Regions from separate parts of the Homo sapiens genome. Here all the other regions are linked to region 1. Evidence: fine-mapped expression QTL. A gene starts in region 1. Each other region holds a variant in brackets. All regions are shown on one strand. Distances are from middle to middle.

Region 1 (7,756 bases):
ATTTTGGCTTTTAACAGAGGGTAATCCACGGGATATAGGAGATGAGGGAGAGCCACTGTCTGAGAGAGTAATTATTAGTAGTACAGCTCTTAACGGTTTAAAAAGTGATCTCATGTTATTAAACTAACTTTTTTTTGAGACAGAGTTTCGCTCCTGTTGCCCAGACTGGAGTGCAGTGGCGTGATCTTGGCTCACTGCAACCTCCACCTCCCGGGTTCAAGCAATTCTCCTGCCTCAGCCTCCCAAGTAGCTGGGATTACAGGCACGTGCCACCATGCCCAGCTAATTTTGTATTTTTAGTAGAGACGGGGGTTCACCATGTTTGCCAGGCTGGTCTCGAACTCCTGACCTCAGGTGATCCACCCTCCTTGGCCTCCCAAAGTGTTGGGATTACAGGCGTGAGTCACCGCGTTCGGCCTATTTCATGTTATTCAGCTTATTTATATTATTCATTTTGCATCCAGCCAATATTAACTGAGTGCTGATTATACATCAGGCACTGTGCTAGGTCCTAGGAACACCACAGTGAAGAAAACAAATAACACCTCTACCCTCAGGGAGGGTATGGTTTTAGTGGGTGGGTGGGCTGTGTGTAGAAGGGAGACAAAGAACACTCTAGGCATAGAAAACCATAGGTGCAAAGTCCCTGAGGCTTTTGCGCTTTATCCTCTCAACAACCCAGTACGAATCCTTACCCCCATTTTTACAGAGTTTAAGTAAGCTACACCCATGGTAAACAGTGAGGTTAAGATTTAAGGAGGCGGGCGGATCACCTGAGGTTAGAAGTTCGAGACCAGCCTGACCAACACAGAGAAACCCTGTCTCTACTAAAAATACCAAAAAATTAGCCAGGCACAGTGGTAGGCGCCTGTAATCCCAGCTACTCAGGAGGCAGAGGCAGGAGAATCACTTGAACCCAGGAGGCAGAGGTTGCAGTGAGCCAAGATCATGCCATTGCATTCCAGCCTGGGCAACAAGAGCGAAACTCTGCCTCAAATTAAAAAAAAAAAAAATTATAACTGAGGACAGGGAGGAGAGGAACCTGGCCCAGGTTGTGGGGGAGGGTGGAGGTCAAGGGGCTGGTCTGGCTCTCCCAGGGTCTGGAGGTCCAGGTGGGGAGACTCTAGATAGATCCTGAGAGTGGTGGAGAACGAAGGAGCTATAGCCTGCACGTGGGTCTGAACCTAGACTTGACTAAATGTGGAAAAGGCAATCCTAGAAAGGTAAATACAAGGCAGGTAAGACAAGCAGAAATGGTGGAGTTTTTTCTTGGGAAGTCACTCTAGGCCAGGACTCAGAAAACCTGAGAAATCATGAATCAATTGCATAAAATTTCTGGGCTGAACCCTTGCACCTAGGGTCAAGTGATGGCAGAGGCGTGACAGGCCTGAGCACCCAGGAGAAACAATAGGGAAATCCATGGGAGGGGAGCCAGACCTACCCACCTCCCACACCCTGGCCCACGCCCAGTGCCGGCTGACACAGAACATGCTTCCCTGCCAGCCCGACTTCACACTTGCTTTTCCTTGGATGTTCCAACTCTTGGTCTTCCTGCAAGACCCCTTGCACATCATGGGTCTTAGGGTTTGGCAGACATGGGTCCTGCCTGTCAGGGTCAAGGGTTGTTGCCTCCAAAAGAGTTACTGAGTACAATGAGAAGAACTCCCTTGCTATAGTAAGGGCTCAACAAATATCATCACTCTCATATAGCTCATGGCCCTGAGAATGATAGTCATCTGTCTCTCTCAAAGGTCTACATCCACACCATTTCCTGGCAAGGAGGATGTGCTCTAGAAGGTTCTGAAAAGCAAATGAAGTGGTGGGCACAGAGTTTCCATTTCAGTTTTGGAGAATGAAAGAGGTCAGGAGATGGATGGTGGTGATGGTTGCACAACCACATGAGCATACCTAATGCCACTGAACCGTACAGTTAAAAATGGCTAAAGTGGAAAATGTATGTTATGTATTTGTTTTTTTTTTTTAACCCCGATTTAAAAATAAGCAAATGGAATGTTGGGAGTGACTCAGATGTCATGGGGCTTCCAGGCTGTCCTGTCTTCGCTTTAACCCACAGATTGTGTCCACGCCACAGTCTCTCCCTAGGCACATCCCCAGCCCTCTGGGAATGTGAAACCTTGTAGGGAGCAGGCCAGGAGACCAGAGGAATGAAATACAAGCACACTCCTGAGCCTGGAGTTCAAATTGGAGCTCATATTCCCCAAGCTGCCTCAGTGGCCTTACCTGTGGCATGGTGGCCCTGGCCGCCCCTCCCCTTCCTTGTCAGCAGCGGCACCCTTGGTTCTGACCACACTGGACCTGCCATTGCTCGTGCCATCACCCTCTGACCTGTGTGCATGCTGTCCTACACCAGGCTGCCCTCACCTGGCCATACAGCTCGTCCTCGGGGCTGGGCTGTGTCTTGTGGTGCTTGGCGTTCATGCAGACATTGAGCAGGTCCGTCCTGGCCCGCGCACTCCTGGGCTGGGCACTCCCCGCAGCAGTCACCAAAGCCAGAAGCAGCAGCTGCATCATCTGCCAGGCCATGTCCATCTATTCCTGCCAGAGAGCCACAGTCAGAGGTAGACAAGGCCTGAGACAGGGGCAACAGCCATGTGATTGTGTACTCTCTCCCTCCCAGGCCCAGATCTCTGCTGTCCCCACCCTGCATCCCCTACAGGGCAGCTGAGCCAAGAAATGCGCTGCGTGTAGAGGTGAGAGGGAGCCCTTCCCCTACCTGGAGGCAGGACCTCCACCAACAGCGCTGTAGGTCCAGGCTCTGACACCAGCTTGCTCTGTGACCTTGTAGGGAGCCACCGCCCTTGTGGACTTCCCCTCTTGGATTTCTCCAGTGTTTTATGCAATTCTTTTCAAATTTGCACAAGGAGGAACCACAGGTGGTGGCCTGCTGATGCAGGAGTGAGACTCTAGACAGCCTCAGGCTTCTGCTTCCTCAGCCTGTCCTCCTACCCCATGGCAGCTGAGGTTTAGATGCCCAGGGAAGCTGAGATGGGGACAGCAAGGGCCATGGAGCTGTCAGCTATTGTTCATGGTCCCGGAGCAGATGCTGCGGGAGGCAAGGAGGTGGGGGCAATCACACCTCACCCTTCACCCCTTCTGGGTCTTGGGAAATTACCTAGGCAGAGGCAGGCTCAGAGGTTGGGGGAGGCCAACAGGTCAGCGGCAAACGGAGGAGGGGGCTGAGCGAGAACAGTGGGCGCTATCTCGCCTCCCACCTCTCATCCCCACTTTTCCCTCTGTCCTGTTGCAGGGCCTTACCTCCATTCTCAGCCCACCTGGGAAGGTGGAGTCTCTCCCACCTCCCCACCTACTTTATAACCCCATCCTGCCTGCTTGGTTAGACCCTCTGTTCGGGAAGGTGCACAAGGCTTTGTCTAGGAGACAGCTCAATTGTCTTTCAATAAGGACCCAGTTAAATTATGGTACATCTACCCAGTGGAATTTAATGTGGTAACAAAGAAAGAGAAAGCTCCTGATGTACAAATATGGAAAAATCTTCAAGTGCATTGTTAAGTGGAAAAAGAAAGGTGCAGAAAAATGCTATGTAAAAAATAATAATAATAAATTCTCTGTAAAAAAGGAGTAAGAATGTCTGTGTTGACTGGGCGTGGTGGCTCACGCCTGTAATCCCAGCACTGTGGGAGGCCGAGGCAGGCGGATCACTTGAGGTCAGGAGTTCGACATCAGCCTGGTCAATATGATAAAACCCCATCTGTACTAAAAATACAAAAATTAGCTGGGTGTGGTGGCACATGCCTGTAATCCCAGCTACTCAGGAGGCTGAGACAGGAGAATCACTTGAACCCGGGAGGAGTTTGCAGTGAGCCAAGATCACGCCACTGCACTCCAGCCTGGATAACAGAACGTGACTCTGTCATTAAAAAAGAAAAGAATATCTGTGTTTGCAGGTGAAAATTCTGTGGCAAGGTATGAAAAGAAATTAATAACATGGTCACCTGGCAGTAGAGAACAGGATTAGGCTTGAGACTTTTCTCTGTAAACCTTTCCACATTGTTTTGATTTTTGGACCATGTGACTATAAATCTTATTTAAATACATATAGGTATGTGTGTATACATACATAAATATACCAAATATGAAGTGAAAATACTAAGACACAGAATGACCTCTCTGACTTGATAATATGTATGTAAATTTTGATAACACTAGAATGTATACAACAGTACCTTTAAGTTAAGGATACTACACATGTGCTTGCAAAAGTATGAACATGAAGCCACCAAGAGTTCTGGTCCCTGGACATACATCCAGTAAATTCGATGCAGTTACACCATATATATCCCATTTCTGTGCACAAATGGTAGCATACTGTTCTGTACTTTGCTTTTTTGGGTAGTTTCACTATAAATTTATTCTTTTGACAAAAAAACAAAAACCTCATGAACTCAAGTTATCCACAGTTGCACACTTGAGTATTACTGTACATCTGATAACATAACTAAAATTATTTCTTTATGCCTCGTAGGGTCTAAACTTAAAACTATTTCATTAGCCGATATAAAAAAGTTAGTGGGCTGGGTGTGGTGGCTTACACCTGTAATCCCAGCGTTTTGGGAGGTTGAGGTGGATGGATCACTTGATCCCAGGAGTTTGAGACCACTTGGGCAACATAGGAAAACTTCATCTGCACACAAAAATAGAAAAATTAGCCACGTATGGTGGTGCGAGCTTGTAGTTTCAGCCATTTGGGAGGGTGAGCTGGGAGGATTGCTTGAGCCCTGGAGGTCGAGGCTGCAGTGAGCTGTGATGGCACCACTGTACTGTCAGAGTGAGACCCTGTCTCAGCAAAAAAAGAAGAAGGAAAAGGAGAAGGAGAAGAAGAAGAAAGAAGAAGAAGAAGAAGAAGAGGAAGAAGAAGAAGAAGAAGAAGAAGAAGAAGAAGAAGAAGAAGAAGAAGGAGAAGAAGAAGAAGAAGAAATAAGGAAACAAAGAAAGTTAGGAAAGAGAACTTCATGTTTTCAAGTTAAAAGTGCCTAATGCTTGGTTTGTATTTCTCCAACACTCTTGGAGGCAGTAGAACTGCTACTAACCTGGGAAGACGACCGGCACTGCCCCTGTGTATTGCTTATGTAGTGTGAAGTGATGTTTTCCCATTATGATGTTGGGAACATTTCCAATACTGTCATCATTTACTCAGCTAGTAGAGAGCCTCTCCTGAGGCAGAGCCTGTGTTTTCAGTCTGACCTCAGTATCTGGTCCTGCTACAGGTGAGTCTGAGGTGACAAGACCAGTGTCTAGTTATGAAGCCCTTGCCTCCCCAGGGCTCCATTATGGATGAGTCCTGCACCATAGTCAGCAGCCCTCTGCCCTCCCTCCATTGCACCCACCTATGACTCTTCTCTTCTTTTCAATGCCCTCCCCCAACAACCTCTGCCTGTGACTTTGAATGTGTTGTGGGGGTCTTTGCAGAAGAATCGCCCACCTGAGTTTTGGCCAAATTCCTGACTCACAACATCTTGGAATATAATAAAATAGTTACTATTTCAAGCAACTATGTGTATTTGATTTTTAAACTTTTTGTTTTGAAATAATTTTAGATTTGCAGAAAAACTGCAAAACATCGTCAAAAGATTTCCCGTATGTTTTTATGCAACTTCCCCAAATATTGGCATCTTATGTAACCAAAGCCCAGTTCTTAAAAAAATCAGGAAATTAATATTGAGGCAATACTGTTAACTAATCTACAAGCTTTATGCCCTTTACACCAGTTTCCCCCCCAATGTCCTTTCTCTGGCCCAGGATTCAGTCCATGATTCCAGGTTGCATGTAGTTGTCATGTCCCCTTAGTCTCCCTCCAATCTGTGACAGTTCCTCAATGTCTTTGTCTTTTATGACCTTGACACTTTTGGAGAATTACTGTTCAGTTATTTTGCAGAATGTCCCTCAATTTGGGTTTGTCTATATTTTCCTGTAATTAGCTTGAGCTTATGCATTTTGGCAAGAAAATTAGAGAAGAGAGGTGCTTTTGTCAGTGCATCATATCAAGAGGTACATGATGAGGGTTGCTGCATCTTATTGCTGGTGATTATTGGGTTAAGGAGATTTCCTTACTATATAATTATTAGTTTCCCTTTGTTAGTAATCCTACCTTGTAGGGAGACACTCTGAGACTATGTGAATATCCTTTTCATCCACTTAGTTTAACATTGTCTGCAGCAATACACCACAAAATTATGGAATGATTTGTTATGCAGCAACAGACAACTAGTAAACCCATGAGAGTTAGTATTGTGTTTCTTAAACTCTGAGGAAACAATTTGGCTTATAACCTTAGTTTAGCCACACAGCAGTTACTCTTTCTACAACAAAATTCCCAGGAAAAACAGAGTACTTATCATATTAATCTTTAAATTAAATCACTTATAAAAGTGAGTAGTTATAATAGTCAAACTTACTTTACCCTCTGTGAACATTCTGCATGATGGATTTGAGACAGTGGACTGAATAATTGCTCAGGAAATCAGCACTACCTCAGTTACTTTCTGATGGGTCCTCATAGTACAATAAACAGGAGATTTCATAGACAGAAATACGGGCTCTTCAAGGCTTCTTCAATCATGAGAATGTTTCTGAGAAGCTTCTGAGCAAATACTTCTATGGAAGCTGATCACAGATCTGAGGTCTTTGCACTTCATAATTATTCTGTCAATCACAGTCATATTAATTCCTCCTCTGCACATGTATCAATAGCATTACGCCCACAGGGTCCAAAAAGAAAGAGGTATGTCCTCAACCAACGAATTTCTGATATTACAGGCTTCATAAAATTCATGCCCTCCAATCCCAGGCTCCACTATCGTGGCCAAGGCCAGGTCTGGCTGAGTTGCCAATGGTGCTAAAGACTCTACTAAAGATTCAGGTGAATGCCAAGGCCAGCCTTCATCCAAGTGACCAGAATATCTTTAATGAATGTCTGGTTTTCAGTAGCCTCTAGATAAAAGGCACACTGATTTGCTACACCTACAACTATAGCCGTTGCCTTTTTGCTCGTTGTTTTGACCTGAAACTTAATCATGGGCGTGGCCTCTCTTTAAGGCTTTCTATCTCAGGTACCAAAGATGATGGCAAGAACAAAGTGTCTGTCCACTACATCAAAGATCAGATGGTTATCCGAGTCCAGCATCTAGGTGCACTGAGCCCCAGGGAGTCCAGGCAACTGTTGAGGGTAGATGGGCCAATCTTTATTTTACCTTATTTTTTATTTTTAGGAGACAGGGTCTCACTCTGTCACCCCAGCTGGAGTGCAGTGGCACCATCATGGCTCACTGCAGCCTCAACCTCCCTGAGTATCTGGGACTACAGGCACGCACCACCACGCCCAGCTAATTTTTGTATTTTTGTAGAGAGGAGGTTTCGCCATGTTGCCCAGGCTGGTCTTCAACTCTTGGGCTCAAACAATCCTCCAACCTAGGCCTCCCAAAATACTGGGACTACAGGGGTGAGCCACCACGCCCGGCCAAGATGGGCCAATCATGAGTCTTGCCCAAATTCTTGGGCAAAATCTCACAAAATCTTGAAGTATAATTAAACTCACAAAATCTTGAAGTATAAGTAAATAAGTATTGTGTTTTTGTTTTGTTTTGTTTTGAGACAGAGTCTTGCTCTGTCCCCCAGGCTGGAGTGCAGTGGTGTGATCTCAGCTCACTGCAGCCTCTGCCTTCCGGTTCCAGTGATTCTCCTGCCTCATCCTCCCAGGTAGCTGGGATTATAGGCACAT
Region 2 (7,756 bases), 35 kb before region 1:
GACCTGTACAGTTAAAAATGGCTAAAATGGAGAACTTATTTTATTTATTTATTTTAAATTTTACCCTGATTTTAAAATAAGCAAATGGAATGTTGGGAATGACTCAGATGTCACAGGGCTTCCAGGCTGTCCTCTCTTTGCTTTAGCCCTCGGAGCCTGTCCATGCCACAGTCTCTCCCTGGGCACATCCTCACCCTCTGGGAATGTGAACCCTTCTAGGGAGCAGGCCAGGAGACCAGAGAAATGAAATACAGGCACTCTCCTGAGCTTGGAATTCAAATTGGAGCTCATACTCCCCGAGCTGCCTCAGTGGCCTTACCTGTGGCATGAGGGCCCTGGCCTCCCCTCCCCTTCCTTGTGGGCAGTGGCACCGCTGGCTCTGGCCACACTGGACCCGCCATTGCTCGTGCCATCACCCTCTGACCTGTGTGCATGCTGTCCTCTACCAGGCTGCCCTTTCCCGCTTTTTCCTCCTAGAAAACTCTTACTCATCTTCCCAGGTCAAGGCCAATGGTCTCTTGCCTGGGAAGTCTCCCCAGCATATTGGATTGGTCGTTGTCTCTTCAGTACCTAATGGGGGTGGAAACCTGGACTGTTTGTACATGTAGGCTGCACCATGACCATGATGGGCCCAGCTCCTCTTCTACTGTGCCATTGAGCTCTGTGGGCTGGCACACAATTAAGGCTGGGAAAGGTATGGACAGTCCCTCTCCTCATTTCCCACTTGCACCTGCGCCCTCTCTGGGCCTATTTCCTCATTTGCGTAAGTAGAGACTACCACGCACCCACCCTGCCCTTTGGGCATATTCACTAACATGGCATGAGTGAAAGCACAAGGCTCATAGGCTCATAGTGGGTGTTAGGTATGTGGTTCCTTTATTATTGTAGATTTGGTGTCCTCCCAGGGGAGGCCCTCCAGGATCACAGCAGTCATCCTCTGCCTTCATCACCTTCCACAGCTGACTTCACCCTGCTAACTTTTCTCTGTCAAAGGCAGCTCTCTCCCCTGCCCCAGACCCGACTTTATCCTCACCTGGCCATACAGCTCGTCCTCGGGGCTGGGCTGTGTCTTGTGGTACTTGGCGTTCATGCAGACATTGAGCAGGTCTGTCCTGGCCCGCGCACTCCTGGGCTGGGCACTCCCCGCAGCAGTCACCAAAGCCAGAAGGAGCAGCTGCATCATCTGCCAGGCCATGTCCATCTATTCCTGCCAGAGAGCCACAGTCAGAGGTAGACAAGGCCTGAGGGAGGGGCAACAGCCATGTGATTGTGTACTGTCTCCCTCCCAGGCCCAGATCTCTGCTGTCCCCACCCTGCATCCCCTACAGGGCAGCTGAGCCAAGAAATGCGCTGCGTGTAGAGGTGAGAGGGAGCCCTTCCCCGGCTGGCCTGGAGGCAGGACTCTCCTCCTACTTCCCACCCAACAGTGCTCTAGGTCCAGGTTCTGACACCAGCTTGCTCTGAGATCATGGAGGGAGCCACCGCCCTTGTGGACTTCCCCTCTTGGATTTCTCCAGTGTTTTATGCAATTCCTCTCAAATTTGCACAAGGAGGAACCACAGGTGGTGGCCTGCTGATGCAGGAGTGAGACTCTAGACAGCCTCAGGCTTCTGCTTCCTCAGCCTGTCCTCCTACCCCACGGCAACTGAGGTTTAGATGCCCAGGGAAGCTGAGATGGGGACAGCAAGGGCCATGGAGCTGTCAGCTATTGTTCATGGTCCTGGAGCAGATGCTGCGGGAGGCAAGGAGGTGGGGGCAATCGCACCTCACCCTTCACCCCTCCTGGGTCTTGGGAAATTACCTAGGCAGAGGCAGGCTCAGAGGTTGGGGGAGGCCAACAGGTCAGCGGCAAATGGAGGAGGGGGCTGAGCGAGAACAGTGAGCGCTATCTCGCCTCCCATGTCTCATCCCCACTTTTCCCTCTGTCCTGTTGCAGGGCCTTACCTCCATCCTCAGCCCACCTGGGAGGGTGGAGTCTCTCCCACCTCCCCACCTACTTTATAACCCCATCCTGCCTGCTTGGTTAGACCCTCTGTTCGGGAAGGTGCACAAGGCTTTGTCTAGGAGACAGCTCAATTGTCTTTCAATAAGGACCCAGTTAAATTATGGTACATCTACCCAGTGGAATTTAATGTGGTAACAAAGAAAGAGGAAGCTCCTGATGTACAAATACGGAAAAATCTCCATGTGCATTGTGAAGTGGGAGAAGGAAGGTGCAGAAGAATGCTATGTAAAAAAAAATTCTGTGTAAAAAAGGAGGAGTTAGAATATCTGTGCTTGCAGGAGAAAATGCTGAAAGGTATGAAAAGAAACCAATAAGGTGATCACCTGGGGGAAGAGGACAGCATCAGGGATGCGACCTTTCACTGTAAACCTTTCTACGTTGTTTTGATTTTTGGACCAGGTGAAGTTATACCTTATTTAAATATGTATTGGTATGTGTGTATGTATACATAAATATACAAAATAGGAAGTGAAAATACAAAGACACAGAATGATTTATCTGACTTGATAATAGATATGTAAATGTCAATAACACTAGAATGCACACAACAATGGTACATTTAAGTTAAGGATACTATACATGTGTTTGCCAAAGTATGAACATGAGGCCACTGAGTGTTCTGGTCTCTGGGTATACATCTGGTCAAATTCTATGCATTTACACTACACATATCCCATTTATGGGCACAAATGGTAGCATACTGTTTTATACTTTGCTTTTTCTGGGTAGTTTCAGTATACATTTATGCTTTTGACAAAAACCAAAAACCTCATGAACCCAAGCTATCCACACTTGCTCTCTTGAGTATTGCCGTATGTATTAGTCCATTTTCAGGAATGATAAAGACATACCCGAGATAGAGCAATTTACAAAAGAAAGAGGTTCATTGGACTTACAGTTCCACATGGCTGGGGAGACCTCACAATAATGGCAGAAGGCAAGGAGGAGCAAGTCACATCTTATGTGGATGACAGCAGGCAAAGAGAGAGCTTGTGCAGAGAAACTCCTGTTTTAAAAACCATCAGATCTCGTGAGACCCATTCACTCTCACAAGAACATGGGAAAGACCCACCCCCATGATTCAATCATCTCCCACCAGGTCCCTCCCACAACATGAGTGAATTATGGGAGCTACAAGATGAGATTTGGGTGGGGACACAGCCAAGCCATATCATTCCATCCCTGTCCCCTCCCAAATCTCATATCTTCACATTTCAAAACCAATCATGCCTTCCCAACAGTCCCCCAAAGTCTCAACTCATTTCAGAATTAACTCAAAAGTCCACAGTCCAAAGTCTCAGCAAAGAAAAAGCAAGACACTTCTGCCTATCAGCCTGTAAAATCAAAAGCAAGTTAGTTACTTCCTGGATACAATGGGAGTACAGGTATTGGGTAAATACAGCCACTCCAAAATGGGAGAAATTAGCCAAAACAGAGGGGCTACAGGCCCCTGCAAGTCCAAAATCCAGCAGGGCAGTCAAATCTTAAAGCTCCAAAATGATCTCCTTTGACTCCATCTCTCATATCAGGTCACACTAATGTAAGAGGTGGGTTCCCATGGTCTCTGGCAGCTCCGCCCCTGTGGCTTTTCAGTGTACAGC[C/T]TCCCTCCCGGCTGCTTTCACAGGCTGGCATTGAGTGTCTGCAGCTTTTCCAGGCAAACAGTGCAAGCTGTCAGTGGATCTACCATTCTTGGGGCTAGAGGACAATGGCCCTCTTCTCACAGCTGCCCTAGGCAGTGCCCCAGTAAGGACTCTGTGTGGGAGCTCCAACCCCACATTTCCCTTCCGCCCTGCCCTAGCAGAGGTTCTCCATGAGCACCCCACCCCTGCAGCAAACTTCTGCCTGGGCATCCAGGCATTTCCATACATCTTCTGAAATCTAGGTGGAGGTTCCCAAACCCCAATTCTTGACTTCTGTGCACTTGCAAGCTCAATACCACGTGGAAGCTGCCAAGGACTGGGGCTTTCACCCTCTGCAGCCATGGCCTAAGCTCTATGTTGGCCCCTTTCAGCCATGGCTGGAGCAGCTGGGACACAAGGCACCAAGTCCCTAGGCTACATACAGCACGGGGACCCTGGACCTGGCCCACGGAACCATTTCTCCTAGGCCTCTGGGCCTGTGATGGGAGGGGCTGCCAAGAAGACCTCTGACATGCCCTGGAGACATTTTCCCCATTGTATTGGGGGTTAATGTTCCTCTTGTTACTTATGCACATTTCTGCAGCTGGCTTGAATTTCTCCTCAGAAAATTGGCTTTTCTTTTCTATCGCATTGTCAGGCTGCAAATTTTCTGAACCTTTATTCTCTGCTTCCCTTATAAAACTGAATTCCTTTAACCACACCCAAGTCACCTCTTGAATGCTTTGCAGCTTAGAAATTTCTTCCGCAGCCAGGTGTGGTGGCTCATGCCTGTAATTCCAACACTTCAGGAGGCTGAGTTGGATCATTTGAGGTCAGGAGTTTGAGACCAGCCTGGCCAATGTGGTGAATCCCTGTCTCTTCTAAAATACAAAAATTAGCCAGGCATGGAGGCACATGCCTGTTATCTCAGCTGCTTGGGAGGCCGAGACATGAGAAACGCTTGAACTCAGGAGGCGAAGGTTGCAGTGAGCCAAGGTCACGCTACTGTCCTCTGGCCTGGGTGACAGAGTGAGACTCTATCTCAAAATAATAATAATAATAATAATAATAATAATAATAATAAACAAATTTCTTCCACCAGATAGCCTAAACCATCTCTCTCGAGTTCAAAGTTCTGCAAATCTCTAGGGCAGGGACAAAATGCTGCCAGTCTCTTTGCTAAAACATACAAGAGTTACCTTTGCTCCAGTTCCCAACAAGTTCCTCATCTTCATCTGAGACCACCTCAGCCTGGACCTTATTGTCCATATCACTATCAGGCTTTTGGTCAAGGCCCTTCAACAAGTCTCTAGGAAGCTCCAGACTTTCCCACATTTTCCTGTCTTCATCTGAGCGCTCCAAACTGTTCCAACCTCTGCCTGTTCCCCAGTTCCAAAGTCGCTTCCACATTTTTGGGTATCTTTTCAGCAATGCCCCACTCCCAGTACAAATTTACTGTATTCATCTGTTTTCACGCTGCTGATAAAGACATATGCAAGACTGGGCAATTTACGAAAGAGGTTTATTGGATTTACAGTTCCACATGGCTGGGGAGACCTTACAATCATGGTGGAAGGCAAGGAGAAGCAAGTCACATCTTATGTGGATGGCACCAGGCAAAGAGAGAGCTTGTGCAGAGAAACTCCCGTTTTTAAAACCATCAGATCTTGTGAGACCCATTCATTATCATGAGAACAGCACGGGAAAGACCCACCTCCACGATTCAATCATCTCCCACCAGGTCCCTTTCACAACACATGGGAGTTATGGGAGCTACAAGATGAGACTTGGGTGGGGACACAGAGCTAAATCATATCACTGTACATCTAATAACATAACTTTAAAGTTATTTCTTTATGCCTTGTATGTATAAACTTAAAGCTCATTAGCCAATATAAAAAACATTAGGGGGCCGTCCTTGGTGGCTCATGCCTATAATCCCAGTGCTTTGGGAGGCCAAGGCTGATGGATTGCTTGAGCCCAGGAGATCAAGACCAGCCTGGGAAACATAGGGAGACCTCATCTTCACACAAAAATACAAAAATTAGTTGGGTATGGTGGTCTAAGCCTATAGTCCCAGCCATTTGGGAGGATGAGCTGGGAGGATTGCTTGAGCCCAGGAGGTCAGGGCTGCAGTGAGCTGTGATGGCATCCCTGCACTCCAGCCTGGGTGACAGAGTGAGATCCTGTCTCGGAAAAAAAAAAAAAAAAGAAAGAAAGAAAAAAGTTAGGAAAGAGAACTTCATGTTTTCAAGTTAAAAGTGCCTGATCCGGCTGGGTGCAGTGGCTCACACCTTTAATCCCAGCACTTTGGAAGGCCAAGTCAGGGGTATCACCTGAGGTCAGGAGTTCAAAACCAACCTGGTCAACATGGTAAAACCCCATCTCTACTAAAAAAAAAAAAATACAAAAATTAGCCGGGCATGGTGGCACATACCTGTAATCCCAGCTACTCAGGATGTTGGGGCAGGAGAATCGCTTGAATCCAGGAGGTGGAGGTTGCAGTGAGCCAAGATCTCACCACTGCATTCCAGCTTGGGCAACAGAGCAAGATCCTGTCTCAAAAAAAAATAAAGTTGGTTTGTAATAAGCTATAGGACTCTGACAGGTGCTCTCAAATACAGGTTTCTGATAACTTTGGAGACTGTGATATTGGAATAAAGGAAAATGTACAGGACTCATGAAGAGCTAAAATGTTCACGAATATCAAGCATAACAAGAACTGAATGGACTGAACTCAGAAAGCTGAAGCAACCTTTTTGACTTTTGCTTGGAATATTGCTGATCCTTGTTTTGTTTCTCAGAGTCAAGGAAAATTATTTTGAACTCTTTAAGGCCTTTAATACTAGAGTAAGCTACACTCCTGTGAACAAAATTTGAAGCATATTTTTCTCTCTCTCTGCCTGGCTTCTCCAGAATTTGGAAATTATCCGTGAGTATTCTTTTTTTTTTTTTTTTGAGGCAGACTCTTGCTCTGTCGCCAAGCTGGAGTGCAGTGGCATGATCTCGGCTCACTGCAACCTCCGCCTCCCAGGTTCAAGTGATTCTCCTGCCTCAGTTTCCCAAATAGCTGGGACTACAGGCACTTGCCACCACACCCAGCTAATTTTTTGTATTTTAAGTAGAGACAGGGTTTCACCATGTTGGCCAGGCTGGTCTCGAACTCCTGACCTCCGGTGATCCGCCCACCTCGGCCTCCCAAGGTGCTAGGATTACAGGTGTGAGCCACCACGCCTGGCCAAGAATGTCACTTTCTAACAGGTCTAGGAGCTCCAAATTTGTCATGGGACCTTAACACGAGAAGATCATCCAACTTACAGGTATTTGAGGATACAAATCCATGGCTGGGCTCAGTTTTAAAACGTTTTGTCTGAAATTCCTTGAAGAACAGAGTTCCATCAAAGCCAATCTAAAAGACTTATGTAGAAATAGTTATTCTTGCTGCACTTTATGCAAATAATCAGGCCAAGTATATGACTAAAGTCTATTTTGCAAACAACTCAATCCTACCATAATTTGCTTTTTTAACAAAAATGAGGACTGGAGAGAGAGAAATTATGTTTCAAAACACCATACATTTGTCAATAAATTCTAAAGTCATTAGTGTTTAAGTTTTTGCCTACATTTTTAGGCTAACACTCCTTGTTCCTGTGAACCAACCAGCAATCTCCAGCTGCAGCTCAGAAAGAAGGAGAGGATGGGTAATGTAAAAATCTGGATCAATATTTTAGTTCTGAGCAATTATCCTGCAAATCCTGCCAGGTGATGGGAATAAATAGGATGCCCATTAATCGGAGGTTTCCTTTTTTGGAAAGTAAGAGCTAACCAAAGCCAAGCACCATGCACCCAAATCCTAGCTTACATAACTATAGCCACCAATTATCTGGGCATGTCACAAGACATCTTTTTCTCTCCCTTGTTGGAGGAGGACTCAATTCTGCAGCTTCACCTTCCTTAGCATTTGGCTTATGATAAGGAGTCCATGCAGCCCTTCCTAGACACATATTTTTGTTTCAAATTCTATTCCAAGCTTTGAGTCAAAGCCCCAGGAAAGAAAACTGGATCTAAGGGATTCAGAGGCAGATGATAACAGGGGTTAAAAGGCACAGTGCAAGGCCGGGCACAGTGGCTC
Region 3 (7,756 bases), 78 kb before region 1:
GCACCACTACACTCCAGCCTGGGCGACAGAGCGAGACTTCATCTCAAAAAAAAAAAAAAAAAAAAAAAAAAGTTGAGGTATAGAAGTCAAGGGTCACAGAAAAATTAAAATTGTCTCAAATATGTTAAACAGCAATATATTACCATCTGGCATTTCTGAAAACATAATTAAGCAATTTTTGATGGCCTTTTAAAAATTGTGGTAAAAACACACGTGACATACAATGTGCCATCTTAACCATTTCTAACGGTACAGTTCAGCAGTGTCAAATATAGTCATACTGTTTGCAATCAATCTTGGAAACTTTTCATCCTGCAAAACTGAGACTCCATATCCATTAAACGATTCCCCACTTTCACTTTCCCTAGCCCCCGCCAACCACCATTCTATTTTCCGTCTCTGTGATTTGGGCTACTGTACTGTAAGTTCCTTGTCCAAGTGGAATCATGCAATATTTGTCTTTTCGTGACTGGCTTTTCGTAATGTCCCCAAGATTTGTCCATGTTGTAAGGTGTATCCGAATTTCATTCCTTTTTAAGGCTGGGTAATATTTCATTGTATGTATGTACCACATTTTCTTTATTTATTCATCTATCAATGGACCTTTGGGTTGCTTCCACTTTTGGCTATCATGAAGAATACTGCTATGAAAATGGGCATATAAATATGTCTTTAAGACCTTTCTTTCAATTCTTTTTGGTATATATCCAGAAGTGAAATTGCAGGATTATATGGTAAGTCTATATTTAATTTTTGAAGAACTGCCACACTGTTTTCTGTAGTGGCCACACCATTTTACATTTCCATCAGCAGTGCACAAAGGTTCCAATTTCTCCACATCCTCATCAACACTTATTTCCTGTTTTGGGAGTTTTGGGTTTATAGTAGCCATCATGTTGAGTGTGAGGCGATATCTCATTGTGACTTTGATGTACATTTCTCTAATAATTAGTGATAATGAGCATCTTTTTCCATGCTTATTAGCCATTTGTATATCTTCTTTGGAGAAATGTCTATTCAAGTCATTTGCCTATTTTTAAAATTGAGTTTTCTTTTTGTTGAGTTGTAGTATTCTTTTATGTATTCTGAATTCACCCTTTATCAGGTATATGATTTGCAAATATTTTCTCCCATTCTGTATGTTGCCTGTTGATTGTCCTTTGATGGACAGAAGTTTTTAATTTTGATGTAGTCCAGTTACCTATTTTTACTTTTGTTTCCTGTGCTATTGGTCTCATATTCAATAACTCATTGCCTAATTCAATGTCATGAAACTCTTTGCCTAGGTTTTCTTCAAAGACTTTCATCATTTTTGCTTTTATGTTTATTTAGGTCATGGATCTATTTTGAGTTGTTTTTAATATTGTATAAAGATGTATTTATACAAGTGTATTACACCTGTGTAAAGCTGTAAGATAAAGGTCCAACTTTTTTTCGCATATGAATATCCAGTTGTGTCCCAGCACCATTTGTTGAAGACTATTCTTTTCCCCATGTTTTAATACCCTTGTCAAAAACCTGGACTCCCAGTTTGATTCCACTGATGTATATGTCTCTCCTTGTGCCACTACCATGCTGTCTTGATTATTGTAGATTTGTAGTAAGTTGTGAAAGTGAAAAGTGTTATTTCTCCAATTTTTTTCTTTTTCAAGATTGCTTTGGCTATTCTGGATCTCTTTCATGTCCATATGAATTTTAGAATCAGGTTGTCAATTTCTACAAAAAAGACAGCTGGGATTTTGACAGCTCTTGAGTTGAATCTGTAGATCAGTTTGGGAGAGTATTGCAATGTTAACAATATTAAGTATTCTGACTGATGAACACGAGATTTGTTTCTATGTATTTAGGTTTTTAATGTCTTTCAACAATGTTTTATAGTTACAAGTCTTTTACTTGTAACTTTTACTTTTGTTAAACTTATTCCTACATATTTTATTCTTTTTGATGCTATTATGAATGGAATCATATTCTTTTTTTTTTTTTTGAGACAGAGTCTCATGCTCTGTCCCCCAGGCTGGAGTGCAGTGGCATGATCTTGGCTCATTGCAACCTCCACCTCCCAGGTTCACGCCATTCTCCTGCCTCAGCCTCCCGAGTAGCTGGGACTACAGGCGCGCGCCACCACACCCAGCTAATTTTTTGTATTTTTAGTAGAGACGGCGTTTCACCGTGTTAGCCAGGATGGTCTCGATCTCCTGACCTCGTGATCTGCCTGCCTTGGCCTCCCAAAGTGCTGGGATTAGGAATCATATTCTTAAATTCATTTTCATATTTGTTCACTGCTAGTGTATAGAAATGCAATTGATTTTTGTATTTTGATCTGGTATCCTGAAACTTGTTGAACTCATTTAGTGGTAATGATATTGTTTTTATGGATTCCTTAGAATTTTCTGTATACAATATCATATCATCTATGAGTAAAAATAGTTTCACGTCTTGCTTTCCAATTTGGATACCTTTTATTTCTTTTTTCTTGAATAATAGCACTAACTACAACCTTCAGTACAATTTAAATAGACATGGTGAGAGTACATATCCTTTTCTTATTCCTGATCTTAGGTTGAAAGCCTTTCACCATTGAATATGATGTTATGTGTTTTTTCAGAGATGCTCTTCATTGGGTTTTGGGTTGAGTTCCCTTCTATTTCTAGTTTGTTCAGCATTTGTTTAATCATGAAAGGATATTGAATTTTGTCAAACAAGGTTTTCTTCACTAATTGAGATGATCATGTGGTTTTTGTCCTTTATTCTAATAATACGGTGAACATCAATTGATTTTTGGATGCTAAGCCAACTTCCATTCCTGGAATAAATCCTGCTTAGTAATAGTATATACTTTTGACCTGTTGCTGGATTCAGTTTGCTAATATTTGGTTAAGCAGATTTATGTCTTAATTCGTAAGGAATATTGATCTATGTTTTCTTTTCTTGTGATATCTTTGTCCGATTTTATAACAAGGTAATACTGGCTCATATAATACAACTTACAGAATGAGTTGAGAAATATTTCCTCCTTTTATTTTTTGAAAGAGTTTGTAAAGGATTGGTATGAATTGTTCTTTAAACATTTGAGCCAGGTGCGGTAGTTCATGGCTGTCCTCCCAGCACTTTGAGAGGCAGAGGTGGGAGGATCACTTGAGCTCAGGAGTTCGATACGAGCCTGGGAAACATAGTGAAATCTTGTCTCTACTAAGAATAAAAAAAATTAGCCAGGCATGGTGGCATGCACCTGTAATCCCAGTTACTTGGGAGGCTGAGGTGAGAGGATTGCTTGAGCCCAAGAGGTTGAGGCTGCAGGAAGCTGTGATCATGCCACTGCACTCCAGCCTGGGTGACAGAGCGAGACCTTGTCTGTAAAATAAGTAAATAAATAAATAACATTTTGTAGAAACCACCACTGAGGCCATCTGGGCCTGAAATTTTCTTTGTGGGAAATTTTAAAATTACTAACTCAACCTCTTTACTTGTCACAAGTCTATTTGTATTCTTTACTTCTTGTGTTATCTTTGGTAGTTTGTGACTTTATAGGAATTTGTTCGTTTTATCGGTGTTAACTAATATGTTGCATACAATTGTTTATACTATTCCCTTATAATCCTTTATATTTCTGTGAGGTCAGTACTGATCTTCCCTTTGTCATTCCTGATTTTATTGATTTGATTCTTCTCTCCTTTTTTCTTGATCAATCTAGATAAAGCTCATCAGTTTTGTTGATTTTTTAAAGAACTAACTTGATTTTGTTGATTTTTGGTGTTTTTCTATCCTCTATTCCATTTATTTTTGCTCTAATCTTTACTATTTCCTTCTTTTTCCTAGTTTATTTTGCTCATCTTTTTCTGTTTTGTTTTGTTTTGAGACAGGGTCTCACTCTGTCACCCAGGCTGGAGTGCAGTGGTGCCATCTCGGCTCACTGCAACCTCTGCCTCCCAGGCTCAAGTGATTCTCTTACCTCAGGCTCTTGAGTAGCTGGGACTACAGGCACACGCCACCACGCCTGGCTAATTTTTGTATTTTTTGTAGAGACGGTGTTTCGCCATGCTGCCCAGGCCGGTCTCGAACTCCTGAGCACAAGTGATCTGCCC[G/A]CCTCGGTCTCCCAAAGTGCTGAGATTATAGGCATGAGCCACTGCACCTGGCCCTTTCTCTGTTTTTTTTAAGGTAGTAGGTTAGCTTATTGATTTAAGTTATTCTTCTTTTTCATATTGACATTTACAAATCTAAATTTCTCTCCAAGCACTGCTTTAGCTACCTCCCTTAGGTTTTGGTATTTTGTGTTTTCATTTCATTCATCTTAAAGCATTTTCTAATTTCCCTTGTGATTTACGAGTATATTTAATTTATACATATTTGTAAATTTCCTGAATGTTCTTATCTTATTTTTTAATGTCATTCCATTGTGATCAGGGAAGATATTTTCTTCTATTTCAATTATTTTTAATTTATTGGTACCTTTTTTAATGGCCCAAAATATGGTGTTCCATGTGTACTTGAGAAGAGTATATATTCTGCTGTTGTTTGGCTGGAGTGTTCTGTAGATATCTGATGGGTCTAGTTGGTTGATAGTGTTGTTCAAGTTCTCTACTACCTAGTTTTTCTAAATACTACTGGTAGCGGGATATGGAAATCTCCAACTGTTATTGTTGAATAAAGTATTTCTCTCCTCAATTCTGTTATTTTTTGCTTCATGTGTTTTGGGACTCTGTTGATAGTTGCATTTATATTTATATTTGCTATGTCTTCTTGATGGATTGACCCTTTTATCATTTTTAAATGACTTCCTTTGTCTCTTAACAATTTTTGTCTTAAATTCCCTTGTCAATATCATTACATTACCTATACAGGTACAAACTACACCTGTGTAGTAGAGACAAGGTCTCACTATGTTGCCCAGGCTGGTCTCAAACTCCTGAGCTCAAGTGATCCTCCTGCCTCAGCTCTCTAAAGTAAAATAATTTGTATTCTTAACAAAGTACTGTAGCTTTACTTGTTTTTACTAGTTTTTCTTTCAACTTTTTTTTTTTTTTTTTGAGACGGAGTTTCCCTCTTGTGGCCCAAGCTTGTGTGCAGTGGTGCGATCTCGGCTCACTGCAACCTCCACCTCCTGGGTTCAAGCAATTCTCCTGCCTCAGCCTCCCAAGTAGCTGGGATCTTTCAACCTTTTTTACTAGAGATATAAAATTAATGTACCTACTGCCATTATAGCATTTAAATATTTTGAATTTGACAACATACTTTTTTTTGTGTGTGAGACAGAGTCTTGCTGTGTTGCCCAGGCTGGAGTGCAGTGGCATGATCTCAGCTCACTGCAACCTCCGCCTCCAGGGTTCAAGTGATTTTCCTGCCTCAGCCCTCCAAATAGCTGGGATTACAGGCATGTGCCCAGCTAATTTTTGTATTTTTAGTAGAAGCAGGGTTTCACCATGTTTGCCAGGCTGGTCTCAAACTCCTGACCTCAGGTGATCCACCTGCCTCGGCCTCCTAAAGTGCTGGGATTACAGGTGTGAGCCACCACATCGGGCCTGACAACGTACTTACTTTTACCAGTGAGTTTCACACTTTCATATATTTTCATGTTACTAATTAACATCCTCTTCTTTTGGCTTAAATAAGTCCCTTTAGCATTTCTCATAAGGCAGATCTAGTGGTGATACATTCTCTCAGCTTTTGTTAGTCTGAGGAAGTCTTTATCATTCTCCCTTTTTGGAAGACAGGGTTCCTTGGTATTGTACTTGGTTAAAATTTATTTTTCCTATAAGGATTTTGAATATATTATTCTACTTCTTTCTGGTTTGCAAGGTTTCTGCTGAAAACCCACTGATAATCTTATGGGTTTCCTTGCATGTAATGTTTCACTTTTCCCTTTCTGCTTTCAAAACTCTCTCTTTGTCTTTAACTTTTGACAGTTTGATTATGATGTGTCTCGGTGTGGGTCTCTTTGGATTAATCTTATTTGATGTCCTTTGGGCTTCGTGGATCTGGATTTCTATTTTTTTCCCCAGGTTTGGGGAGTTTTCTGCCATTATTTCTTTGAATATGTTTTCTAGCCCTTTCTCTTTGTTTTCTCCTTTTGATATACTGATAATGTCTATGTCGTTATGCTTCATGGTGTTCCATAAGTCTCTTAAATTATCCTCACTCTTTTTTTATTATTTTTTCCTTTTTAGTCCTCAGATTTTGTAATTTCCAGTAACCTGTCTTCAAATTCACTATTTTTTTTCCTACTTGATCTAGTTTACTATTGAACCCCTCTATTGAATTTTTAATTTCAGTTACAGTATTCTTCAGCTCTATTATTTCTATTCGGTACTTTTTAAATACTTCTTATCTCTTTATTGAAATTGTCAGTTTGTTCTTACATTGCTCCCCTGACCTCAGTAAGCATCTCCATGGTCATTATTTTGAATTCTCTGTCAGGTAAATCACATATCTCCACTTCACTCAGGTCAGTTTCTGGATATTCATCTTGTTCTTCTATTTAGAACATATTCCTCTATTTCTTCATTTTCCTTGACTCTCTGTGTTGGTTTCTGCACATTAGATAAAATAACTATCTGTATTAGTCCATTTTCACACTGCTATAAAGAACTTCCCAAGACTGGGTGACTTACAAAGGAAAGAGGTTTAATTGACTCAAAGGTCAGCATGGCTGGGTAGGCCTCAGGAAACTTAGAATCATGGCTGAAGGCTAAGGGGAAGCAAGGCACATTCTTCACAAGGCAGCTGGAAGGAGAAGTGCCGAGCAAAGGGGGAGGAGCCCCTTGCAAAACCATCAGATCTCCTGAGAACTCACTCACTATCACAAGAACAGCATGGGGGAAACTGCCCCCATGATTCAGTTACCTCCACCTCGCCTCTCCCTTGACTTGTGGGAATTACAAGGATTATACTTCAAGATGAGATTTGGCTGGGGACACAAAGCCTGAGCATATCACTATCGCTCTCAGTCTTGTCCGACTGGCCTCGTGTAGGAGAAGGCTCTCACCTATCTGTCTGACCAGAGATTTTAAGGTACCTCTCAAGTCTTTGTGTTTGTCCAGACCTCTATTCTGTTTTTGGTGCCCCCCTGGAGTTTATGTCATATCATTTCAGTATTCTGAGACCAGTAAAGCAGGAGCCAGACTCTGTAGGTGTAGCTGGAAATGTTGGAGTGTTGGGTGTGTGTTTCAGCTACTTCTATCTTTGTGGTAAACCTGAATACAGGTGTTTATCTCCCATTCTCTCTGCACTAAGCTGAGGAGAAAATCTGTGGCAAATGCCTTTACTAACATTCAGGTTGTGCCTTCTGATCCTGGGGAAATAGCTGTTGGAAGCGTGCCTATTATATGTTCACCTCTTCATTTTCTGTGGTCTCAGCCCACCCAGGAATGCAAAGCTCCATCAACTTCAAGAGCTAGGTCATTAAGGAGACAGATCCCAGGGTTGGAGCCATAGAAGTAGTGGCACTCAGTGCATGGCCAAGCTCCTTCCTGTAAGAATGAGTAGACCTGGATTTATTTATGGGGTGAGCCAGAGGAAAGTTTCATGAAGTTCCCTTGCTAAAGCTGTAATAGGGCTATTGTTTGTTTGCTCCATGATCTCCGTGGTGCAAGTTTGTTAGCTGTTAGGTCATCAAGTAGCCACTGGAAGTGTACTATAAGCCCCTTCTGGAGAGAAAATGGGAACTAGATGTTCCCTCCCCTTTTCTCAATTGTTCCAAAGGACCATAGCCCTGGAACTGTTTGTGCACCGATTTAAAACTACGTCTTTGTTCTGTGATCTA

Evidence for each region. PIP is the estimated chance that this variant, and not a neighbour inherited with it, causes the effect. A credible set is the group of variants that fine-mapping cannot tell apart.
Region 2: its variant is the best candidate, but not a certain one, in a credible set for the expression of FOLR3 in whole blood (TOPMed, PIP 0.83).
Region 3: its variant is the best candidate, but not a certain one, in a credible set for the expression of FOLR3 in whole blood (TOPMed, PIP 0.60).

Annotation. Positions count from the first base shown.
Region 1 is chr11:72,130,747-72,138,502 of GRCh38, reverse strand. FOLR3 (folate receptor gamma) reads right to left here and starts at 2,778. Exons shown (of 5, transcript NM_000804.4): 1 at 2,735-2,778; 2 at 2,383-2,556. The coding sequence starts at 2,550. It also overlaps the pseudogene RPEP6.
Region 2 is chr11:72,165,894-72,173,649 of GRCh38, reverse strand. The region is part of intron 2 of FOLR1-AS1 (FOLR1 antisense RNA 1); the gene reads left to right. It also overlaps the pseudogene FOLR3P1. Among named protein-coding and RNA genes, the nearest start is that of FOLR1, 22 kb to the left of the region's middle. The variant C/T (reference allele first, on the strand shown) is at 3,607.
Region 3 is chr11:72,208,296-72,216,051 of GRCh38, reverse strand. FOLR1-AS1 (FOLR1 antisense RNA 1) reads left to right here and starts at 6,811. Exons shown (of 3, transcript NR_199595.1): 1 at 6,811-7,005. The variant G/A (reference allele first, on the strand shown) is at 4,083.